Linked DNA regions of Homo sapiens: region 2 is linked to region 1. Evidence: fine-mapped expression QTL. Tissue or cell type: prefrontal cortex. Region 1 holds a variant in brackets; the other region holds the start of a gene. All regions are shown on one strand. Distances are from middle to middle.

Evidence for each region. PIP is the estimated chance that this variant, and not a neighbour inherited with it, causes the effect.
Region 2: it holds the start of LINC01938, and the variant in region 1 is fine-mapped to the expression of LINC01938 in prefrontal cortex (CommonMind, PIP 0.95).

The regions. Positions count from the first base shown.
Region 1 is chr5:164,250,153-164,258,225 of GRCh38, forward strand. No RefSeq gene overlaps it. Among named protein-coding and RNA genes, the nearest start is that of LINC03000, 43 kb to the right of the region's middle. The variant G/C (reference allele first, on the strand shown) is at 3,451.
Region 2 is chr5:165,239,586-165,247,658 of GRCh38, forward strand. LINC01938 (long intergenic non-protein coding RNA 1938) reads right to left here and starts at 3,914. Exons shown (of 5, transcript NR_183276.1): 1 at 3,571-3,914; 2 at 2,044-2,240; 3 at 1,087-1,172; 4 at 877-944.

The sequences.
Region 1 (8,073 bases):
TCCTTCTAGCTTCTCTAAATTACCTAAGATGCCCATTTTGGGAGGTATTTGCATATGAAATATTTATGTTCCTTGAAATCAGTTACTTAGCTAAGGAAAAAAAAAAGCCTGTAATAAAATAAAGTGTTTAAGAGCTGAATAAATGTTTCCTACCCTCTTTGGTCAATCTATTGCAAACAGTGACTTTTAAAAGTTCACCTGACACTATTAATAGAAGTAAGTCAGTCTAAAGTTATCTACAGATTTTTAATGCAACGTTTCAAGCCAAAAAAGTCTTGATTCATCAGGAAAGCCTGAGATTATTAGTATGAAAAGGCTTTACTCACCAAAAAGATCAGTCATTATTATGTAATATTAATATTGATTGGACTTAGAATATCCTGGATTTTAGTGTTAGGAAAGGGTGCTGAGTAATGTAATCAGTGCCCCATAAAATCAGTATCTTTTCCAATTCTCAATTGCATTTGTTTACATACAAAACGGGGTATTCAACTTTATAGATATGATTTAGGTAATTTAATAATGTGTGAATGAGATTTTAGCTCTGCAGTAGAAACAAGGATCTCCTTCAGTCTAGTGCTTGATATGGGTTTTTGTGCTTTAATAAAACAATGTACCGCCGGGCACGGTGGCTCACGCCTGTAATCCCAGCACTTTGGGAGGCCGAGGCGGGCGGATCACGAGGTCAGGAGATCGAGACCATCCCGGCTAACATGGTGAAACCCCATGTCTACTAAAAACACAAAAAATTAGCTGGGCGTGGTGGTGGGCGCCTGTATCCCCAGCTACTCGGGAGGCTGAGGCAGGAGAATGGCATGAACCCGGGAGGCGGAGCTTTCAGTGAGCCGAGATCACGCTACTGCACTCCAGCCTGGGCTACAGAGCGAGACTCCGTCTCAAAAAAAAAAAAAAAAAAAATGCAAGTCCTCACAATGCTATTTTCTAAATTCCTATTAGATTTTTCAAAAGCTTAGAGAAAATTTTGTAAAATGTTTAGATAAGGTAGCTTAACATAAATATTTTTTGTTAGTTTACATTCTGAAGCTATTTCTCTCTTACATATACTATTTAAATGTTTCCTGATTCTTCATAGACAAAGTGCCCTGATATTTGAACTGACAAAGTGTGAAAATAGAAAGAAAAAAATACACACACACACACACACACACACACTTGAATTTTATTAGACGATGTTTTTATACTACTACTGGAAGTTATTTCTTGAGTATTTCTTTAATATTCTCCAAACTTGCAGACAGGAAATATGTATATTATAATATATAACTATAATATAGTATAATAACTTACTATTACATTAATAATATTACATATTTAATATAATATATTATAATATTATATTTGCATATTATAATATGTTAATAATATTACATAAGTATATCTTAGTAGAAATTTCCATGCCGGAAAGCTGACAGCAAATTGAACTCTTCTAAAAGCATGAGAATAATAATCAAATTAATCTTCTGAAAGTATTTTAATCATATCCTTTCATTGTTCCCAAACAATTCATGGATTCTGTTTACCTAAGACAACAAAAGTCAATGGGCATTTAGGTTGATTTCATGTCTTTGCTATTGTGAGTAGTGCAGCAGTGAATAAATGCTTGTATGTCTCTTTATGGTAGAATGATTTATGTTTTTGGGGGAATATATACCATAATGGATTGCTGGGTTGAATGGTAGTTCTATCTTAAGATTTTGAGAAATCAACAAACTGCTTTTTACAGTGGCTGAACTGATTTACATTCCTACCAGCAGTGTATAAGCATTCCTTTTCTGTGCAACCTCACCAGCATCTATCATTTTTGGATAAAGAAAATGTGGTACATATACACCATGGAATACTATGCAGCCATAAAAAAGAATGAGATCATGTCCTTTGCAGCAACATGGATGGAGCTGGAGGCCATTATCCTAAGTGAACTAAGACAGGAACAGAAATCAAATACTACTTTTTCTCACTTATAAGTGGGAGTTAAACATTGAGTACACCTGAGTACAATAAAGGGAACAACAGAAACCAGAGTCTACTTGAGAGAGGAGGGTTTGAGGAGGGTGAGGATCAAAAACCTACTTATCAGGTACTATGCCTTACCTATGTGACGAAATAATCTGTATAACAAACTCCCACGACATGAAATTTACTTATATAACAAACGTGCACATGTAGCCCTGAAGTGAAAATAAAAGTTAAATATAAATAAAATAAACCAAAAGTTCCACCAACTACTTATCCTGAAATTAAAAGCTCTGACAATACATGCTGGATCTCTGTTGGTGAATACTTTTACTGTCATTCTTATACAATTTACACATCTTGTACAATTTATACATCTTGTTTCACTGTAACACTTTTTTCTCACTCCACTTTTCCTTCACTGATTATTTACTTGTGAAATTGTACTTAACATCCAAAGAGCCTGTATAAATGCCAATTTGCGCCCAGGAAGTCTTCCATGATTTTATCCAGAGGCATTTATTTCTCAGGCTTCTAAACTTCCAAAGGGCTTTATCTCTGTCCCTCTCAGTATACTCATTACTTTTATAAATGTTTCATTGTATTTATTTTCATACTGGCCACTAATTTCTTTAGGTAAAGCATGATCAACTCTCATATTCTTCACACTGTTGTGCATAGTAGGTGCTCAGTAAATTACTAACTGGAGCAATGCTATCATAGCAGAAAAGTCATCATGACAGTAACAGAGTAATATATTTTTTTGAGACTGACTCTCATTCTGTCTCCCAGGCTGCAGTGCAGTGGCATGATCTCAGCTCACTGCAACGTCTGCCTCCCAGGTTCAAGCAATTCTCCTGCCTCAGCCGCACGAGTAGCTGGGATTACAGGCGCCCGCCAAAACGCCCGGCTAATTTTTGTGTTTTTAGTAGAGACAGAGTTTCACCATGTTGGCCAGGCTGGTCTTGAACCCCTGACCTCAAGTGATCTGCCCGCCTTGCCCTCCCAAAGTGCTGGGATTACACGCGTGAACCACTGCGCCCGGGGCCAACAGAGTAATTTTTAAGTGTAAAACACTGGATTAACCTCTTTATACTCCCCAGGGAAAAACTAAAGAATACAAAGTATGAAAATCAATTTCTTTCAATCTTAACTATTCTGGATATATGTCTCCCCAAAATTACCACTAAATAATGTAGGAATCATCAACAATAGGATGAAAAATATTTATTTGATTCAAAGTGAGTATGATAACAATGTTTGCTAATTCTATGATAACTCAAAAACTTAAATGTTCTCTACTTTTTTACAGTTTGGAGAAGATTTTTAAAGCAATTTGTATCTTTAAAGAAAAGATCATCAATTTCTGATGCTGTTCACAACCACAAAGCCTGAGAAGGTGAAGGGAATGCCGTTAAATACCACTGAAGCTTAGAAAAAACGTTTCCAGACCTCATTCATTTCCTCTGTCAGTAA[G/C]GAAATACTGTGTTCAGACAATAAGAAAAGAAACCAGTAATAGAAATTGCTGCAAATTCTGTTTGTGTTGATCCTTCAAGTTCAAACCTTTCATTTCATGGGCTGTAGCTGTTAAGAAGAGAGCTGGGGGAGCCCGATTATTCATTTCTATAATTAAAGAGATACCCAGTCATTGAAATATATGCCCTTCTCTGTGACTGACAGCCGCTATGATTGGATGTTAGCAATGGGCCCCGTGGAAGATGAATTCAGGTAATCTCCATTTTTTTTCCTTCTTCTCTCAGAAAGGCCTCAAATTGACACTAATTTTATGGTCTCAAATCCCAGAGTCCCTTGGATACTGAGAATGGAATGTAAAGAAATTCTCCTTGGTGTCAGTCAGTAACTTTCCCTTTTCTTCAGGTTACAAAAGGCGATTGACAGGAAGAGAAGGTCTGCTCACTGCTACAACAGAGATGAACTTGAAAACTGATTGACAGACATCTCCTCTAGACCTTATTTTTTTCTCATTGTGATGATACCAGTGATGATGAAGAATAGATGATACAAGTTCATAGGAAGATAGGTACCTTTAACTGTCATTGTCAAAGTCAGATGGCACAATGGAGACACACCAACCAAAATAAAGCCAGGTCTCACTGAACAGATTTTTCCTTTTCCTCTTATCCATTCACTTAGAAAATTAAGGACAAGGAATTACAGTACAAAGACCCCTCCCTTGTCTGTATTCTAAGAGCCCAGTCCTTCCCCAGAAAATACAGCATTCCCAACCCTTCACACTACACAGGTTGTAAATAAGCAGTAAATATGTGTTGAGTTAAAGAAACTAAAGATACAGAAAATATATTCTCCTTCAAAAACAAAGAAGAGAAATTAACACGAGTTGACTATTTGCAGTGTTTTAGGCACAGTGAATTATATGGATGGCCAGATAGCGGCCACACACATGTGCACACTGTAAGTGCCAGGGACACACAGAGGTGGCCCCCAGAAAAGAATTAGATGCCACAGGTCTCAGTGCACATGGCTTTGCCCTGCTCAGGTGAGTCTCTCTGCGCCTGGCCAGGTCTGGAGCTTGATTTTGTGTTGCCCTACAGTCCATTTAGACTTCTACCATTATCTGGAAAAACTAGCACAATATGTGTGATATGGTTTGGCTGTGTCCCCACCCAAAATCTCATCTTGAATTGTAATCCATATAATCCCCAGGTGTAAAGGAAGAGACCAGGTATAGGTAATTGAATCATGGGGGTGGTTTTCCCCGTGCTGTTCTCGTGATAGTGAGTGAGTTCTCACGAGATCTGATGGTTTTAAAGTGTTTGGTAGTTCCTCTTGCCTTCATTTTCCCTCCTGCCGCCTTGTAAAGGAAGTGCCTTGCTTCCTCTTTGCTTTTCGCCAGGATTGTAAGTTTCCTGAGGCCTCCCCAGCCATGCGGAACAGTGAGTCAATTAAAACCTCTTTCCTTTCTAAATTACCCAGTCTCTGGCAGTTCTTTATAGCAGTGTGATAACGGACTAATACAGCATGCTTCAGGGGATACATCTTCACTATGGGCGGGGCTACCTTCTTACCCAGGGGGAACAGTCAGAGTAAGTGTGCAGACATTACCAATCACTATGTCCAGCGTCCTAGAAAGCAGTTTTCCCCAAATATAGCATTTTTCCAAGGACCAGAAAATCTAAGCAGAAAAACAAATATATTATTAGTAGTTTAAAATCTCAATTCTTTAGCTGGTAGGTAGGAGCATTGTAGGAGAAAACCTGAGTCAGATAAGCTTTGGAATATAAACCATGTGTTGTTCACTGCTCTACCCTCAGCATCCAGAAGACTTCCTAGCACATATCTGGCCTTCAGTTATTTGTTGAACTAATCAATATGCAAAAATATTTAGAATGCTGGGCCTTCTCCCAGATGTTGTTCGGGGATCAGAAAATCCAAACTAGCCCAGAAAGAGAAACTGGGTGCTTCCAGTTTCATACTGCCTTCCATTAATCACATTTCCTACTTGATTGTTCAAGTAGGGACTTTTGTTTAATTAGCAGCAAGCATTGCAAGTTGCTAAAAACACAAGTTCAGCTCACATCCTTGCCCTTTTATCTCTACTACCCCATTCAAATTTACTTTATATGTTCTTTTATTACAGGAGCTTCTGGTTACACCGTCTGAGGAGAGAGGATTCACTGGGAGCTGCCTTTGTCTTGCAGATACCACCCAGGTGCAGTTCCTTAAGAACTTGTGTGTTATTTTCTTTTGTAGAAAATAGCCTGTCAAACCTGCTAAGAGAAAGAGTTCAAGGTCAAGAATAGATTAATCAGCTTTCCAAAGATACTGTCACCCAGCCCATGGATAGTTTATCTTAGCATAGACAAGAACAAGATGTCAGAAGTGCTGAAATGTTGTTCTGCCATCTACCAGCCACACCAGTAGGTGGCCTCGACAAGGGGGAAAAGAAAGGTACCCTTCATTCATTCATTTATTCAACAAATACATATTGAACATTTACCTCATGTAAGGTCTGTGCTATTACCTTGACTAAAGAAGTATTTATACAGTTCCTGCCTTCAAGATGCTCACAGCCTGGGCATAGAGGAATGGAGGTGGCCCGTGATACAATCCTATTTATGGGACAGAAAATGCCGCCCAAAATTGCCAGACAAAAAAATGTGTCCTCTGCCCCATGTAAAAATAAAATTACAAACTATGATTATTAATTATTAAGTTAGTCACAGTAATCTGTGCGAACATCACAAAAATCATAAGTAACAAATATTGCAAAAAATACACCATGCTATATATACCAAAGTTTCTGTTGTAACACCTTTTATCCAAAAACTACTCCTTTGCTCTGTTTTAATGTTGCCACTAAATACCAGTTCTTATTTGTTAAGCATGCCTCAAATGAGGTAATAGAATTATGGCTAGATTATACCACTATTAGTCATTCTGCCCTGGAGAAGGTATTGAGAAGGGTGAATTTCTTCATCCTCTTTTGAATTACTCACTTTGTCATACTCCTATGTCACTCTAACCTTTAAAAAAAGGTGGAGAGCCCAAAATTGCTTGCTTAGACTTAAAATTTCTCACTGACAAATGGCTAAAACTTATGAGATTCGCCTTAAATACTATTTCTTCTCACTCAGAGTAGTTAATAAATAAATCAACGGCAGAAAAGCTCTTTGACAAGTTTCCACCTCTCCATGGTCCAGAATTTTGTCTCATCCTTCATTACAAATAACTAAAATTAGACCTAACCCACTGAAGGGAGTCGGCAATTTCTCCAAAATAGCAGCAGGTAAGAAAAGAAAATCAAAATCCAGTGAACTGAATGCTAGGATTGTTAATATACATGGCCCATGAAAGGGTCCTCAAGTCCACCTTTCTAGAATTCATCTTTCAAGAGAAGGTCATTGCTGGGGTGTATCTTGGATATTGAATAGGAATTAGCCAGGATAAAGAGAACAACAGCAATAAAAAATTAAAAACTGATAAGGAAGGAGAAAGAGCACATGCCATGTAATAATTAACAGCATTTACGTATGACCCAAAGGGAGGAGAAAGCGTGCCACACTCTGGTGAAGCAGGATGGTGGTAGAGTGGATAGGAAGTTAGAAAAGAATGGAGAGAGAAAGATGTTCAATAGGTTTGTATGTAGGAAGGAAGCAAGGTTGGGCAAGATCATATAGAATCTTATAAAACTTTAATATGAAATCTGGGCTTGGCCCATTGAATGGTTACTTAGGAATAATTTTAAGCCAGCTCCTGAGATCTGTGATTCTCAGAGGTCACTGTGACTGCAGCCTGGAGGAAGGAACAGGGATCTGATAAGGTGCCAAGGCTGGAGAAAGGGGAAAGAATCAGAAGGTTCTAACTTTACTGAAGTTAGGTCTGGAAAGAAGCGACAGTCCCAAATATTTAGATGATAGATAAGGTGACCGAAAGAGAGAAATCAAGTATGTGTTCAGGAGGAATGTCAGGTTTTACTGAAGTTTAATAGTCCTCTGTTAGAAAGTGTCTAACTCTAAAAGAAAGTATATTCTTATAGAATATTACATGAATTTTGCTGCACTCACTTCCCAGTAAGGAAGATAAAATAAGCCTGTTTGTAGAATAAAGACTAATAATACTTACCTTTATCATTAAATCCAGTTGCAGAAAAAAGGAGAAGCAAATTAAACATAACCGTATAAAAGAAATTACCTGTTTATTATTTTGCCATGTTTTTGCTATGCATATATTTGTATTTTGTGTGTAATTTAATATAATTTATTAAAGTATAATTTAAATGTAATACAATATATCCATTTTATGTGTACAGTTTAAAAAGTTTTAATATACATTCAGGTAAACATCAAAATAAAAATACAGAACATTTCCATTACTTCAAAACATTCCCTATCTTTACAGTCAAGTTCACCACCATCCTCAGCCCCACACAATCATTAATCTGCTTTCTACCAATATAAATTAGTTTTGTCTTTTATAGGATTTCATATAAATACAACTATCCAGTACAGACTCTTCATATCTGAGTTCTTTCATTCAGCATAATGTTTTTGAGATTCATCCACAGTGAGATTCATTCGTAGTGGCGTTTAACTTTTGGAAATTAGTCATTGTAATTAC
Region 2 (8,073 bases), 990 kb after region 1:
GATTTTGAACACAGATGGGTAGCATATGGAATTAAATATTCTGTAATCAATGTATCCTACCGTTTACTTGCTGTGTGATTTGGAGAGAGAATTAATTCTAAGCCTCAGTTTCCTCACTCTCTTTAAAGGGCTTAATAATAATGTTTATTGGCGGGGCGCGTTGGCTCACACCTGTAATCCCAGCATTTTTGGAGGCCAAGGCAGGTGGATCACGAGGTCAAGAGATTGAAACAATCCAGACAAACACGGTGAAACCCCGCCTCTAGTAAAAATTAAAAAAATTAGCTGAGCATGGTGGCACGCACCTGTAGTCCCAGCTACTTGGGAGGCTGAGGCAGGAGAATCACTTGAACCTGGGAGGCGGAGGTTGCAGTGAGCCGAGATTGTGCCACTGCACTCCAGCCTGGCAACAGAGTGATACTCTGTCTCAAAAAATAGATAAATAAATTAAAAAAAGATGTTTATTTTATGTAACTGCCTTGAACACAGAAAAGGAGATTTTATTATAAAACATCTGCAGCTAAAATAGTGACAATATCATTAGAGGTATGTTTTCATATGAGTATGTGTTTAGATGTATTTACTTAAGTGGCTTAAGTAAATTTAAGTCATTGGTAATTTTAACAATGCTTTTTAAATAAGTAGATCTATGTTGACACACTGAGGCCATGTAGAGGAAGTAGAATATTGTCATGGTGGCCAAATAACAAATATTTTTCTTTCCTTTAATATTAGCAATTTTATACAAGTATTTCATTAAAGCAATTTAACTGAATGCAATTTAATTATAGTCCATTTGTATCCAGAATTTAATCAGAGAAGAAAACCATTAGGAGATCAATAGGCAGATCTATACAATTGTTACATGAATCTTACCTTATGCAATTGTGGGAGTTAGTTAAATAGTTTCCGCAAGGTTTTTGTCTTTGCTTGTGGTGCTGGAGCTTGAAGTCCACAAGGAAGGTAGTTGGAAAGGGAAGATGATTGTAAAGTGGGGAAAGTAAAAAAAAATCTAGAGTTAAAATATACAAGCTGGAGCCACAGAACAATAAACTGAAATGCATGCCATTTCTTGTTGCCTCTGACCTTGATGGTATAGGTTAGGTCCGTCAGAAGATGAGTCTCCTCACCGTGGAGTTAAATACAAACACCTGGCCGCAGAGTCAGAAAAGCTGAAGAAATATCAAAGGGAAGGTGCACTAGTTGTAGGTCCACCTCATGCCTCACATCAATAATTTAACCAGACTGACAAAAATATGTGCAAGATATAAAATAGTTGTTGCTTTACTTCCACCCACTAAATCGCCTGCAAGAATCTCTCTTGGCCCACCCTAAGTGGAGATATACAGGGAAGGGTACTCTGGGAAATGTAGCCCAGTACAGCCAAGCTGACATAGTTTGCAGAGCCAGCACAATCCACTCCTTACCAATTTGGCACTCATAAACATCTTAAATCATACTTAGACTACACAAAAGATCATGACAAAGTCAAACTTCCACCTAACATGGTGTATCTCTTCTAAGTACATCTGAAAATAGGCTTTTTTCCTTTTAGTAGAACACAACGTCGTGTTGTTGTTTTTTTGTCTTTGGATGATATTTATTCTTCTCCCAATGCATGCTTCAAGTTGGATATCTTGTAATTTCAAGACTATGATATAAATTTAATTACTATTAATACATCTTTGATAAGAAGAAAGAGAAAGAAAAGGGAGATACTTGGTTAATACAAATACAAACATAGTTATACCAAAATAAGAAATAAGTACTCACACTATTCTAGTCTTGTTTCTATAATTGGTCATGTGGCCATAACTGATGTTTATAGCTACCTTCTTCCCCTACTCATTTCATATTTTCTTTGCACTGAGCTAGCCTCTCAACTGGTCAATGTGGCGTAGTGACACAGTTCTCACTTACTGAAGTATCTGGAAACATCCTGAATTGGGCTGCTATAGTTTTCCACATACTTTAATCACAGGACCTGGGAATACCAACAAACATTCTAGAGGATCTCCCGCATCATAGAAATGCTCCTCTTACTCTGTTTGTGTAGTGGCCACCGAATTTCTCCTGGGTGGTTAGGATCTATAACTCTCTTCTTTGCCCGTTGATTCAGAGGCATGAGGAGCCCAAAGTGTTCAGGTGGCAGTCTCAACTTCCTGTTGAATGGAATCATTGTCATGTCTCCTGGGAGATGCATTCTTCTTTTGGAACCCAGATGTCTAGACCAGCAGAAACTGAAGTGGTAAGGATGGAAGACAAAAATCCAGTTATTGGATTGCTAGGGATAATGTTCAGAGGAAGCATTCTTATTTCTACCCCTTGGTTCCTAGATATGTAAATCCTAGTTGTTAGAGAAACAACGTCATATACCATATGCTGATTTAATGCACATATTTTATCCTGGAGGACATTTTTCTAGCCCTGCATTATGTTGCCACCCAGATGCTGTCATGAATAAGACTTGAAAGGGCCATTTCATCAGTCCATCAAGCTAGCTGCTTCAGCACAATAGAGAATATGATTAGACCAGTAAATTCCATGGGTTTGGGTGTATTGCTGCACTTTATTTGCTGTGAAATGAGTTTCTTGGTCAGAAATGATGCTATGTGGAATATGGTGAATAAGATATCCTGTAAATCTGTGGACAGTTTGAAGATGCACTGCAAGTAAGAAGGCAAATCTATATCCAGATTAATAGCTTGACCAGTGAAAACAAAATGCTGTGCCTACAATGACAGAAGTGGCCCAATGTAATTAACCTGGCAACAGGTAGCTGGCTGATCCTTCAGGAAATGGGGCCATATTGCAGGAATGGCCCCATTCCTGCAATTCGGGGTATTCGGCAATGGCTGTAGCTATATTGGCTTGGGTGAAAGAAAATTCATGTTGGTGATGCCATAGATAACCTTGATTCCTGCCATGATGGCCACTTTATTTATGAGCCCATTATATAATGACTGGAGTGGCTGGGAAGCCAGTAATGAAAGACATATGTAAAGTCAGGGAGATTTAGAAGAAGCTGGAAGCTACAGGCATAGGCTGAAACCCAGTGAGAATTTACATTGAAACCTGTGTATGTTCTCACTGCCTCTGAAATTTTTGGCACGGATGATCTGAAGTAGTTGAAGTTTTTCATCATGAAGTTAAACACACACACTTGGCCCAAGAATCAAAGAAACTGAAGGACAATTTAAGAAAATATAGAGCAGTCTCAGGCCCAGCTGTAGCCTCATGCCAATGAGGTCAGTTGAAAGATCAGCAGCAACATATGTGAGCAACAACATGGTGCCTGTTTTGCTTCCTTTCTCTAAGTCTCACAGAAGAATGTCTTTGTGGTCCATCCTAAACAGAAGCATACAAGAAAGGAAATTCCAGAAAACGAAGTTCAGACTAGCCAAGTTAAACATTACAAAGCCACTTCAAAATGGTAAGAAATGTTAGGTCCCTAGATGATTGAAGTCACTATATATTTTTGGTTTGGAGAACTTTATTATAGACAGAGAAGGGAGAGTTCAGAATTGGAAATCTGGAGAATGGGAGTTTCTGTCATAGTTCAATCATTACCTAAACACACGATCTTTGTGAGTCCTTTATCCTTACCCAGCCTTCATTTCTTTAGTTGTAAAATGAAGCGGATACCCTGGATTATATTTGAAAGGCTTCCCTGTTTAGTAGGTAAAATAATTGTTGGTCAGGATGCTGAGAAACAAATTCTGGTTATACCCCCTTCTGATCCTTGTGCAAGAGCTTGGGCTTTCTGTGCCTCAGTTTCCTCTTCGGTAAACAACAATAGTATTACAGAACTCATAGCAATGTTCTAAGAATTAAATGAGTTAAAATACTTAAAGCTCTTAAAGTCACGAGGAGTATGTAGTCATCACAGATTAAATGTTAGCTAGTGCAGTAGCCACAATTTGCCTGTGAATTTTATAATTTCTTGTCTCCTGTAGAGGTCTAAAAACCATATGCACTGTCTCAAAGTCAGTGCTTTGACTTAGGAATTAGAAGGAAATTACCACAGATCTTGGTAAATTTGTTTTGTCATTGGTAAATTATATGATTTTTCTCTCTTTTTTGATACTGATGCTATTAATAAGGTGCATTGATTATCCATAATGAGGTGGACATGGTACAAATATGCAAATAAAGCAATTATTTAGTGGCCTTAACCAAGGGAGAGTATAACAGGGTATGGAAGGTTATTAATGGTGTAAAGAATGCTGACAAAGGAGCTTTTTCTCTTTAATAACAATGCCTAAAGAAGTGGGTTTCAAGTAATTTAAATAAATAATACTGATATGTATTTGGAGAACTACCAGAAATGATCTTTTGTAGACATAAAGTCTGATCTTAGTTGAATCTTTGATTTCTTTTTACCCACTCACCATTCTCTCCCCTTGTTTCAGTAATCTAAATACCATGTAAGGGCATGTTCTGAAGCCTGCTTACCTACCCTTCTCAAATAGCTGCCTACTGCTCTTGCTCTTGTGAGCTCATTTTCTGCCTTCACTCATGTTCTTACTGAGGGTATATGAGGAAGACCTCATTAAAACAGAATCATTATGTATAAGAAGAAAGAATCATTAAATTTAAAGAAGGAAGCAGAGAAGGGAAGGGGATTTATTGCCTCGCGTAACTAAGAAACCCAGTGGGCATTGTGGCTTCTGACATGACTGCATCTGGAATTTCAAACAATGCATCTGCTTCTCTCTCTGTCTCTCCTCCTCCTCACCTCCCTCATCCACTCATCACTATCCCTCATCCACTCATCACCATCCCTCAGCTTTGATATATTTATTATACATTAGCAGGTTTTTCTATGTGCCAGGAATAGTGGCTTCTAGTAGTTCCAGAGTTTGATTCTTAAAGCTGGTTGGCCCAGAAAAATAGAGTTCATGTATCTCCCTCAATGTCCCTATACTCTAATACAGTCATACAGTCTGCTTTGGTTACCTACCCGCCCATGTGTGTCAATCTGCTTGGGCTGCCATAGCTGAATGCTTCAGTCTGGGTGGCTTAAACAACAGAAATTTATTTTCTCACAGTTCTGGAGGCTCAAAGTCCACGATTAAAGTGCCAGCACAGTTGGTTTCTGGTGAGATCTTTCTTCCTGGCTTGCAGACAGCCACCTTCTCATGGCCTCAAGTCCCTAGTCTAATTCTATTTCTTGATCTCGGTTTTTTTTTACAAATGTTTTTTTTTCTTAGTCACATACTTATTATATTTTGTTTTCTGTATCTGTGTCTGTGTTTTCTGCATCTATGTTTTACCTTACAATAAAAAGGTAACTCTATGGCTAAGTCATGGGATAGCAAGTTTCTAATTTAAAACCATATATACCAATTCTCTTTACAGTAACCAAAGATAGCCAAATCGCCAAGGCTGAGGTTAATGTTGTGGGGAACTGTAATGATCTTACAAGAAAGGTAAAGAATAAATGGGAACAAAAATGGACCTGTTACAAATAGAATGACACAAAACTAACAAAAAGGGGTGGTTACTCAAACTAAAAGAGTAGTGCCAGGACTGCTGAGAAGTAGCTGGCCTCTAGATATATTAATAGGCAAGTCCTGGGAGAACTTGATGATTAATTCCATATGAGTATTGGGAGAAAAGGTTATATATTTCCGAATTGAACTACAAGGTCAATAGTGACATCTTTCAGAGAAAGGGAACAACTGAGGATGTAAAGTAAGGTATAACAAAGTTGGGAAGGGAAGAAGATTATGAGTTCAAGTTAGACAAATTGTCTCTAAGTCACCAGTGATATGTGCAAGAGAAATACCCAAGCAATTTATATAATTAGAGGTTGACAATTCAAGGGAGGAATCCCAGCTATAAATAAATATTTGGAAGATGTCAGCATGTAGAGCACTACTGATCCATTCTCTGGAAAATATGTAGAGTGAGTTGGAAGAAGTATAATAGATTTCTAAGCATAAGAAACATTTAAGGACTGGGCAAAGAAGTAAGAGATCCTCTCCCTCTAAAAGCAGAGATTCTGAGATGAAGAAATTTAATGGTATAAGAAAAATCAGAAAAGTTAATTTGGGGGGGGCAGAGAAGGAAAATAAACATAGCTTAATATTCAGAGAATTCAATTACATAAATCCTAATACATTTTGGCTGAAAAAGGGTTTGCCATTGGCATGTTCATATTTTGATAGAGAAAACAGGCAAAGGTCACTGGTGTTGAGGAAATGGTGAAATAGAAGTTTGGGTGTTGGTTGGGCCTTCTGCATGGATGTTGAAGTCAGCCAGGATGACTGCAGAACATTAGGAAGAGAAGTCTCTCAGCCAAGACCAGAATAATCCGTGCATGGGAGGAGATAGAAGTTAGAAGGAAATATCCCTAGTTGCCTGGCTTTCTCCTACTTCTGCTAACAGCCCTCAACCTCAAGTGTTACTTTTTAGGGAAGTCTCCCCTCAACCCCACAACACTAAGTTGGGCATCCCCTAAAAGTCCCTGTGGTGTCACTTAATTACCCCGTTATATCCTTTAACAACTCTGCACTAAAGTGGAACAGTTGGCTTTCTCTCCATGAGTCTATTCGCTCCTTTAGCTAACTTCAAGACTATGCCTGTTATTTCTCATCTGTTTAGCACTGTACTTGGCACATAAAAGTCTCTTCAAAAATGTTTGTTGATAGAATGAATACATGAAAATATAAATAAACAGGAGGAGTGTGGAGGGGCAGGTTATCAAGGAAGCAGTGGGGTTTACTCAAAGATAGAGGAGTACTGAGGGAGAACAGACTGCAGCTTCTGGCCCCCCTGTAAGAAGTCCAACAATGCCAGGTTTGCTGGTGCTGACAGAAATACCCTAGCCTAAAATTGTGAACTTCGATTATTTCTGTGCACAAAAAATCTAGTAAAACTTAAGCTCCCAAAAAAATAAAAAAGGGTATCACTGGAAAATTCAAGAGAACACATTTTTTTTTTCAGGAAACATAACATGTAAACCCATCCTCTTTTACTCTTCAAAGTTTTTTGAGTAAAACAAGCTGTCAAAAATTAAATAGAATTGTTTTTAGTCTCATTATTTGACATGTTAGGGAAAGGGTATGGAATAAGAAAAGATGGAACATAGTAGAAAAGGGCCAGAAAATAAAGGAAGATAAAGACCTAGGAATAAATAAAAGGATATTGTCTAGTTAGTGAGATCAAACTTGGTATGATAATATTTGCTGACCTTCTATTCTGTACTACACACTACATTCTGTATTTTCACTGAAAATAAGGTTTCTCTGTTTTTAGATTAATCCTGCAAAGTAGGCATTATTATGCATGAGAAAAAGATTTAGAGAATTTATAATTTGTTCAAACAGATAAATGCTGCAATTGGGATTCAAATCTAGCAGCCCCTACCCCGCTTTTCACTACATGGGTGTTACATTGAGGTGTTATCCCTCAAGAATTTGAAATGAAAGACAATGTCTGAAAACTGTGTGAAGAGAGATTCTGTGTGTGTGTGTTTGTGCACATGTACGTGTATATATGTATATGTATGTTTATACATCTATCTATATGTATCTATGTATTTGTGTATCTGTCTATCATCTATAAGAGAGGGATTATTTTTGGTCAGCAAAAAACTCTGTAGACTGAGCAGGCAAGGATTATTGCAAATACTGCCTGTGCCATGTTAAGAGCACCATTTTCAGAATTGTCTCTGGATGGAATAAATCATCATAAGCAGTGGGATTGTACTTTAACTGCTAGTATGAAATTTTTTTAAAGGTCATAATATAATTTGAGAATATAATCTCATTATGGGGCAATATTTCATCCTCATATTTATGGAACAAATATATAAGATTTATTTCCTCTTTTAACTCTACATATGTTAGGTGGTAATATTTTGAGGCCAATGAATTATAGTTTAAAAAAAATAGCAGACTTTAAGATCAGTAGAAATTCCAAATTTAGATTTAAATGTATTTTAAATAAAAGGATCTTTTTTAGAATATGTAACTTTTTAGTGTACAAGATATGTTGTTATGTTTGCTGCAACTTGGGTAAGAAATAAAGATAGCTATAAATCAAGGTAAAATGAAATATATGACC